Linked DNA regions of Homo sapiens: regions 1 and 3 are each linked to region 2. The links come from fine-mapping of genetic effects on gene expression. A gene starts in region 2. Each other region holds a variant in brackets. All regions are shown on one strand. Distances are from middle to middle.

The links. PIP is the estimated chance that this variant, and not a neighbour inherited with it, causes the effect. A credible set is the group of variants that fine-mapping cannot tell apart.
Region 1: its variant is the best candidate, but not a certain one, in a credible set for the expression of SLC27A4 in tibial artery (GTEx, PIP 0.65).
Region 3: its variant is the best candidate, but not a certain one, in a credible set for the expression of SLC27A4 in whole blood (TOPMed, PIP 0.73).

What each region holds. Positions count from the first base shown.
Region 1 is chr9:128,296,085-128,298,830 of GRCh38, forward strand. No RefSeq gene overlaps it. Among named protein-coding and RNA genes, the nearest start is that of SWI5, 21 kb to the left of the region's middle. The variant A/C (reference allele first, on the strand shown) is at 1,467.
Region 2 is chr9:128,338,971-128,341,470 of GRCh38, forward strand. SLC27A4 (solute carrier family 27 member 4) reads left to right here and starts at 1,557. Exons shown (of 13, transcript NM_005094.4): 1 at 1,557-1,868. TRR-TCT3-1 (tRNA-Arg (anticodon TCT) 3-1) reads right to left here and starts at 1,196; the gene lies at 1,106-1,196. RefSeq lists silencers at 934-1,575, 1,204-1,613, 1,684-2,083.
Region 3 is chr9:128,364,318-128,367,109 of GRCh38, forward strand. No RefSeq gene overlaps it. Among named protein-coding and RNA genes, the nearest start is that of URM1, 5.7 kb to the right of the region's middle. RefSeq lists enhancers at 1-612, 613-1,504 and a silencer at 846-915. The variant G/A (reference allele first, on the strand shown) is at 1,640.

The DNA.
Region 1 (2,746 bases), 43 kb before region 2:
TTGAGACCACCTTGGCAACATAGTGAGACCTATCCTCCACAAAAAATTTTAAAAACAGCCAAACATGGGCCGGGCACGGTGGCTCACGCCTGTAATCCCAGCACTTTGGGAGGCCGAGGTGGGCGGATCATGAGGTCAGGAGATCGACACCATCCTGGCTAACACGGTGAAACCCCGTCTCTATTAAAAGTACAAAAAATTAGCCGGGCGTGGTGGCGGGCGCCTGTAGTCCCAGCTACTCGGCAGGCTGAGGCAGGAGAATGGCGTGAACCCGGGAGGCGGGGCTTGCAGTGAGCCGAATTGCGCCACTGCACTCCAGCCTGTGCGACAGTGCAAGACTCCGTCTCAAAAAAAAGAAAAAAAAAAACAAAGCCAAGCATGGTGGTACCCAGCTACTCAGGAGGTTGAAGTGGGAGGATCGATCCAGCTCAGGAGGTCAAGGCTACCATGAACCATGATCACACATTGCACTCTAGCATGGGTGATAGAGTGAGGCCCTGTCTTGAAAAAAAGGAGGGGCCGCTTGGGGAGAGAGGGAAGGGAGGAAGCCCAGGCCAAGGGCCCAGTGCCTCTGTGGTTGGGGCTAAGGGATGTTGGGGCCCCCAACCCTGATTCTTCGGAGGAATTGGGAGGAAAGCTCCAGGTTCCACGTCATGTGGATGGGCCTGAGAATGAGGTGAAAGGTAACAATCACACACCCAAACCAGTTATGAGCCAAAGGTTTCACCAGATAAGGGATTGATGGCCACAATCACCAGCACATATGCAATTCTGTGGGTCAGACAGGGAGCTGAGTCACCATGCCCCGCAGTATCTCATTGACTGCCCCCAACAACAGAGAGTGGTTGAGAGTCCCCATTTCCAAATGGAGCAAACTGAGGCTCAGGGGGATGCAGATAAGTAGCGAAGCTATCTGATTCCAGAACCTGGCTGAGTAGCCACAGTGTGCTGCCTGCCTCCCCAGTGGAGCCTCTTGAGTCTCTTATCTGAGGTCGGGCATTACTAAAACAGGAATCGGAACTTGAACCCAGCACTCTCCAAGCCCTTAAGCCTCAGGTCTTAACCACAGAGCCCTGCTATGTTTGTTGTATGTTGTATCTGCCCAGGGCCCTGACCTAGCGGCCAGGTCAGTGGCCAGAAATGATCAGCCTCTGCCTTGGACTTGGCCTGGGCCCCTCCTTCCTGGTTCCTGTAGGTAGCCTGCTCGGCTTCCTTCCCAGTGAGCCTCCCATTCCTAACATCAGCAATTCTGGACAGGAGTAAAGTCCCTCTTGACCTTTGACTCCTTCAGCTTCTCATGTTCATCCCACAATCCCAAAAGTTCTTGGCGGAATAATCATTATAGCAGCTAATGAGCACATTCTAACTTGGAGAACATTCTCTGTGCCAGACCCTGAGCCTAATGCTCTGCCTATCACATGTGTTCCTCATGGCCACCCTGAGAGGTAGGTAGAGTTGTCCCCATT[A/C]TCCAAATGAGGTAAATGAGGCTCAGAGAGGTTAAGTCACTTTCCCAAGGAAGCACAGAGAAGGAGCAGACTCAGAGTTTGAAGGGGTTTCAAACACTTGCTCTTTAAAGGCCAGGTACTAATTCCCAAACTTCTGAGTATCACAATTATCTGAGGGGGATGTTTTGTTTTGTTTTGTTTTGGAGACAAGGTCTTGTCTTGTCTCTGTTACCCAGCTGGAGTGCAGTGGTGTGATCAGGGCTTACTACAGCCTCAACCTCTCAGACTCAAGCCATCTTGCCAGCCCAGCCTCCTGAGTAGCTGGGGCTACAGGCACATGCCACCATGTCCAACTCATTTTTGTATTTTTTGTAGAGATTGTGTCACCCTATGTTGCCCAAGCTGGTCTTGAACTCCTGGGTTCAACCAATCCACCCACCTCAGCTTCTCAAACTGCTGGGATTGAGAGGGATTTTTTAAATAAAGATTTGGGGCTGGGTGCCTATAATCCCAGCATTTTGGGAGGCTGAGGTGGGAGGATCACTGGAAGCCAGAAGTTTGACACCAGCTTGGGCAACATAGCAAAACCCCATCTCTACAAAAAATACAAAAATTAGCCAGGTGTGGTGCCATATCCCTGTGGTTCCAGCTACTTAGAAGACTGAGGCAGGAGGATCCAGGTCGAGGCTGCAGTGAGCCGAGATCATGCCACTGCACTCCAGCCTGGGTGACAGAAAGAGACGCTGTCTCTTATAAATAAATAAAGATGTGGGTGTCCAACCTCTAGGAATCCTGACTTTGCAGGCCCAAAAATATATTTTAATAAACTCCTTGGGTATTGTTTTGTTTTGTTTTGTTTTGTTTTGTGTTTGAGACAGAGTTTCACTCTTGTTGCCCAGGCTGGAGTGCAATGGCACAATCTCAGCTCACTGCAACCTCCGCCTCCCGGGTTCAAGCGATTCTCCTGTCTCAGCCTCCCAAGTAGCTGGGATTACAGGCATGTGCCCCCATGCCCAGCTAATTTTGTATTTTTAGTAGAGACAGGGTTTCACCATGTTGGTCAGGCTGCTCTCGAACTCCTGACCTCAAGCGATCCACCCGCCTCAGCCTCCCAAAGTGCTGGGATTATAAGCATAAGCCACCGCGCCTGGCCCCTTGGGTGTTCTTGCTACATTGCTCTGTGCGCGTACCTTGATGGTTGATGAAATTGCTTCTTCTGACTACCAGTAATCACATCCTCTGAAATCCTGCCTCAAAACCAGCCCATCTTCAAACACATCTACACAGCCACCTGACCCTAA
Region 2 (2,500 bases):
AACCTTTGCCTCCCGGGTTCAGTGATTCTCTTGCCTCAGCTCCTGAGTAGCTAGGATTACAGACGTGCACCACCACGCTCGGCTAAGTTTTGTATTTTTAATAGAGACAGGGTTTCGCCCTGTTGGCCAGACTGGTCTCGAACTCCTGACGTCATGTGATCTGCCCACCTCAACCTCCCAAAGTGCTGGGATTACAGGCATGAGCCACTGTGCCCAGCTTATTTTTATTTTTTGAGACACGGTCTTACTTTGTTGCCCAGGGTGGAGTTTAGTGGTGCAATCACAGCTCACTGCAGCCCCAAGTTCCAGAGCTCAAGCAATCCTCCCACCTCATCTTCCTGAGTAGCTGGGAGTACAAGCAAGAGCTACCTGGCTAATTTTTTTTTTTTTCCTGTAGAGGCAGAGTCTCACTATGTTGCCCAGGCTGGTCTTGAACTCCTGGCTGAAGTGATCCTCCTGCCTCAGCCTCCAAAAGTGCTGGGATTACAAGCTTGAGCCACCACGCCAGTCCCAGAATCTTTTTTTTTTTTTTTTTTTTTTTTTTTTTTGAGATGGAGACTTGCTCTGTCGCCCAGGCTGGAGTGCAGTGGCGCAACCTCGGCTTACTGCGACTTCCGCCTCCCAGGTTCAAGCAATTCTCCTGCCTCAGCCTCCCAGGGATCTATTAATGTTTAAGGACAAGTGGCAACTGTGGATGCCCAACATGGTTACTTAACAAGAAACCAATTTTTCAGAGGCCAAGAGTCCCAACAGGGCCGAGAATCTGGCCACTCGCCTATGGCTCTGGAGGTGGCATGACAAATAAGGGTGGCATGACAAATATAGGTTAACTGATTTGTTGCAGGGACCAGAGATCATAGATGGTGAAGTTAACTAAGGGCCTCCAAATCCGTGTCCTTTGTGCCAACAGGTGTGCCAGGCTGCTCACAAGACACCATGGTACGAGAAAGGATTTCTCGTAGTCACCTAGACACCAGGTTTATGGCTGTGTCGCAGCAAAGTTGGGTGTGACTTATGATTTTCGTTCTGAACCTTATTTGTTAGATAGGTCCTGGAGTCCTTAAAACACGCAGGTGAAAGTCAGGGAGTAGGAGCCATCAAAATTCGACTCTGGTGGGACTCGAACCCACAACCTTTGAATGACCACACTAGGCTCAGCTAGAAGTCCAATGCGCTATCCATTGCGCCACAGAGCCGGCTGCGGAACCCGGCCGCCCCGCTCACCTCTGCCTGAAACCGCCCTCTTAGCGAGCTTCTAGGTGTGGTGCTGGGTGTTTGCTGAACTCGGCCGGGGCCCGAGAGCGTGCTCCGGGTTTTCGGCTGTGGTGTGGACTGGGGTGCTCTTCCTACATCCGGGCGCTGGGGACAGCAGGGGGCAAGGGCCGGGGTCGGCAGGGAGGAAGGGCCGGGGTGAAGCCCGCCTGTCTCCTCGCGGACTCGGGGGTCTCCTCGGCTGGGTGGGGCCGCGCGGCGTGGACTACAACTCCCAGCGTGCCGCGCGGCGGCGCCGCCCGAAGCCGTTGCGCGAGCAGGGCGGGCTGGGGCCGAGCGGCGTCAGGCGCGCTGGGGCTGCGCTGCGCCGCCGGCTCTGTGGCTTGCCGGCTTCGGGGAAGGTGCGGCAGGCGGTGCTGCGGCCTGGCACAGCAGGTTTGGGGTGCGGGAGGCGGGCGGGGTAGGAGCGCGGCGGGCGGGGCCGGGCGGCGGGCGGGGCTGGCGGGGCGGCCGGGCCATGCAGGGCGCAGAGCCGGCTAAACCCTGCTGAGACCCGGCTCCGTGCGTCCAGGGGCGGCTAATGCCCCTCACGCTGTCTACGCTGCTGCAACCGGGCCGCATCTGGACGGGGCGCCGCGCGGCGGAGCCGACGCCGGGTGAGCATAGACCGGGCTGGTGGGTTCCCGGGTGGGGACATGTGCCAGGCCGAGTCGGGCGAGGTGGCGGTGCGGACCCCAGGTGGGGGGCGCGCCCTGCGGCGCTATTTCCCCGACAGACGCACTGTTACCTTGCTGTCTAGGGGCGAGGGCGGCACGCGTGACCCGGGACAGGGGCCCGAGGGAACTAGTCACCCTCTTCTGGCCTCTTCTTGCCCCAGCCTTCCAGGACAGGTTCCTGCCCCTCTGCTATGGCGGGCTATGGGAGGCCAGAGATCTGAGGACCCTGGACCCTGGCGTTGGGGTTGAGGACTCTGGTTCAGTTCCCCCGCCCCCGGCTTTTGCTTTTCGCGAGGGGGAGGGGGAGATGGTCTCCCAGGGCTTCTTGTGGTCCAGACCATTCCCTTTTCCTGGCTTGGAGGCTCTCAGGCCATTTCACATTTGTGACCTTCATCTACTCCCAAGAACAGGAAAACTCGGAGAAAAACAGTCCCATCAGATGTCCCCTTGATCGAGTCCTCAAAGCTCCAGGAATAGAACCCAAGAGTCCTAGCTCAACCCAGCCCCTGAAGCACAGTCAAGTCATTCGCCTTCCCCTAAGCCCTAGACCCCAAAGATTCATCCGAGTGGCT
Region 3 (2,792 bases), 25 kb after region 2:
GCTCTTGTTGCCCAGGCTGGAGTGCAGTAGCCCAATCTCGGCTCACTGCAATCTGCACCTCCCGGGTTCAAACCATTCTCCTGCCTCAGACTCCCAAGTAGCTGGGATTACAGGCACCTGCCACCACGCCAGGCTAATTTTGTATTTTTAGTAGAGATGGGGTTTCACCATGCTGGTCAGTCTGGCCTCGAACTCCTGACCTCAAGTGATCCACCCGCCTCGGCCTCCCAAAGTGCTGGGATTACAGGCGTGAGCCACCGCGCCCAGCCCAAAGCAGGTACATTTTTATCCCCATTTCACAGATGAGGAATCTGAGGCTCAGAGAGGCAAAGTCTCTCCCAAATACCACAGAGCTTGTGAATGGCAGAACTGGGAGGAAAGTCCCCTTCCCTGAACCTCAGTGTTCCCATCTGCAAACTGTTCCTCCAGGAGAGGCTGGAAGGGGCCAGCCTCGTGCGCTCCCGGAGGTCCAGCTGCCCTCGGGACAGGCAAGTGGCTGTCCAGGCCACTGCATGGTGTATCACTTTCAGTTCCTGGGAAGAAGGTTAAATACCTCCGAGGGGCCCATTGAGGCTGCGGCAGCAAAGGAGGGGGTGACCGAGTGACTTTCAAAGGGGCTTGAAATGCGTAGCCGGCCCCTCCCCCCGAGGAGGGGGCCCTGCTTCCTCCCGGCCTAATGATATTCTGGGCTCAGCCCTCGTCTTTGGCGGCAGTTTAACCCGAGCCGGGGCGGATTTCTTTCTCACTGATCTCAGCTTGACACCCAATTAGCACAAGAATGGGAGGAGGAAGCCTGCGAGAGGCGCCTCCCAGCCTCCCGGGGCGCGCGAGGGGAGCAGGCGGGAAGACAAAGGACAGCAGGCAGGGGGGCACCCGCGCCCTCGCCTCCCCAGCCGACCCTGCCATTGTCTCCCTGCGAGCTTCAGAGAGGACGGAGGCCTACGCCCGGGCTGGCCGGCCTGCTGGAGGGAACAGGGAATGGGGCCCAAGCCCCTGTTCTGTGTGGACCCAAAGGGAAAGCATTTGGGTGAGGCTAGTCCAAGGGGAGGCAGTGAGGTCAGTGCATAAGGGGCAGGGATCCCGAGGACACAAAAGCCTGGGGCTGAGGCCTTACGGGGGCTCAGGCAAGCCACCCATTCGGAGTCTCGGTGCTCTCATCTGAAAAAGGGATCACAAAGAGTCCCTGTGAGGAGTAAATTAGGGGGTGCATGTAATGCACCTGGCAGGTGCAAAGTGGGCGTGCAATAAATACTATTTGAAAGATTATGGGTGTTAAGCTAATATTGTTACTAACTAAAGGATGGAGTGGGGTAGGCTTGGGTTAGAAGGAAGGACTTTATCAGTGATAGCTGGGCATCCACAGAGTGGGCTGGTTTACCCAAAGAGCTCACCAATCTCTGGGCTGTGCCAGGAGAAGCTGGAGGACCACCTGCCTGGGAGATTCCAGTAGGGAGGGAGTGTCTCTGGCCCCGTGCATAGACTCCCAACACCTCCTTTAGACTTGGGCTTCCATGTGACTTCCTGTGGGAAGCCTTCCCGGACCCCAGGACTAAGTTGGGGACCTCCTCTGGTTCCCACAGGCCCCGTGTTCTCCCTCCATACCATGGATTGCTCTGTCTTCTGTGGTTCCCTCTATGTG[G/A]TCTCCTTGAACATCAGCCCCAGGAGGGCAAGGAGACCCACAGGTTTTGGGGTTTGTTTTGTTTTGAGTTGGAGCCTGGCTCTGTCGCCCAGGCTGGAGTGCAGTGGCGAAATCTCGGCTCACTGCAACCTCCCCTTCCTGGGTTCAAGCGATTCTCCTGCCCCAGCCTCCCAAGTAGCTGGGATTACAGGTGTGCTCCACCACACCTGGCTAATTTTGTGTTTTTAGTAGAGATGGGGTTTCGCCATGTCCAGGCTGGTCTCAAACTCCTGACCTCAAGTAATCCACCCACCTCTGCCTCCCAAAGTGCTGGGATTACAGCGTGAGCCACCATACCTGGCCTACCGACAGGTTTTTTTTTTTTTTTCGTGGTGGTGGTTTGTTTTGTTGTTGTTTTTTTGTTTTGTTTTGTTTTTGAGACGGAGTCTCGCTCTGTCACCCAGGCTGGAGTGCAGTGACGCGATCTCGGCTCACTGCAAGCTCCGCCTCCTGGATTCACGCCATTCTCCTGCCTCAGCCTCCCGAGTAGCTGGGACTACAGGTGCCCGCCATCACACCCGGCTAATTTTTTTTTGTATTTTTAGTAGAGACGGGGTTTCACCGTGTTAGCCAGGATGGTCTCGATCTCCTGACCTCGTGATCCGCCCGCCTCAGCCTCCCAAAGTGCTGGGATTACAGGCGTGTGCCACCGCACCCGGCCAACTGACAGGTTTTGTTCATCATTGTGTTCCCAGCAGCAACACTGGCCCTGGTGTGTAATAGGTTCTCAGTGAATGTTTGTCAGGTGGATGAAGCTCTTCAAATGCTCCCAAGTGCTCCATTCCAGCTCTGGGAGGCAGTTTCCAGGTCAGGGGACACTGAGGTGGGTTGGAATCAGAGGCTGTAAAGGGCTCTGTATGCCTTCTAGGTAGGCCCTTAGCTTGTTGGCAAAGGGAAGCCATTAAGTGACTTTGAGCAGGGGACTGATATCATTCATTCATTTACTCATTCAGCAAGCTCTTGGCAAACCCCTATAGAGTACAAAGTTCCGCACTACCTGCTATAATCAAAGATGAATCAGGAAAAGTTTCTGCCCAGAAGGAGCTTAGAGTACAGTAGAAGAATCTTAGAATATGTTTGCATAGAAGACCTTAGAAGATCATTTGGTCCCAAA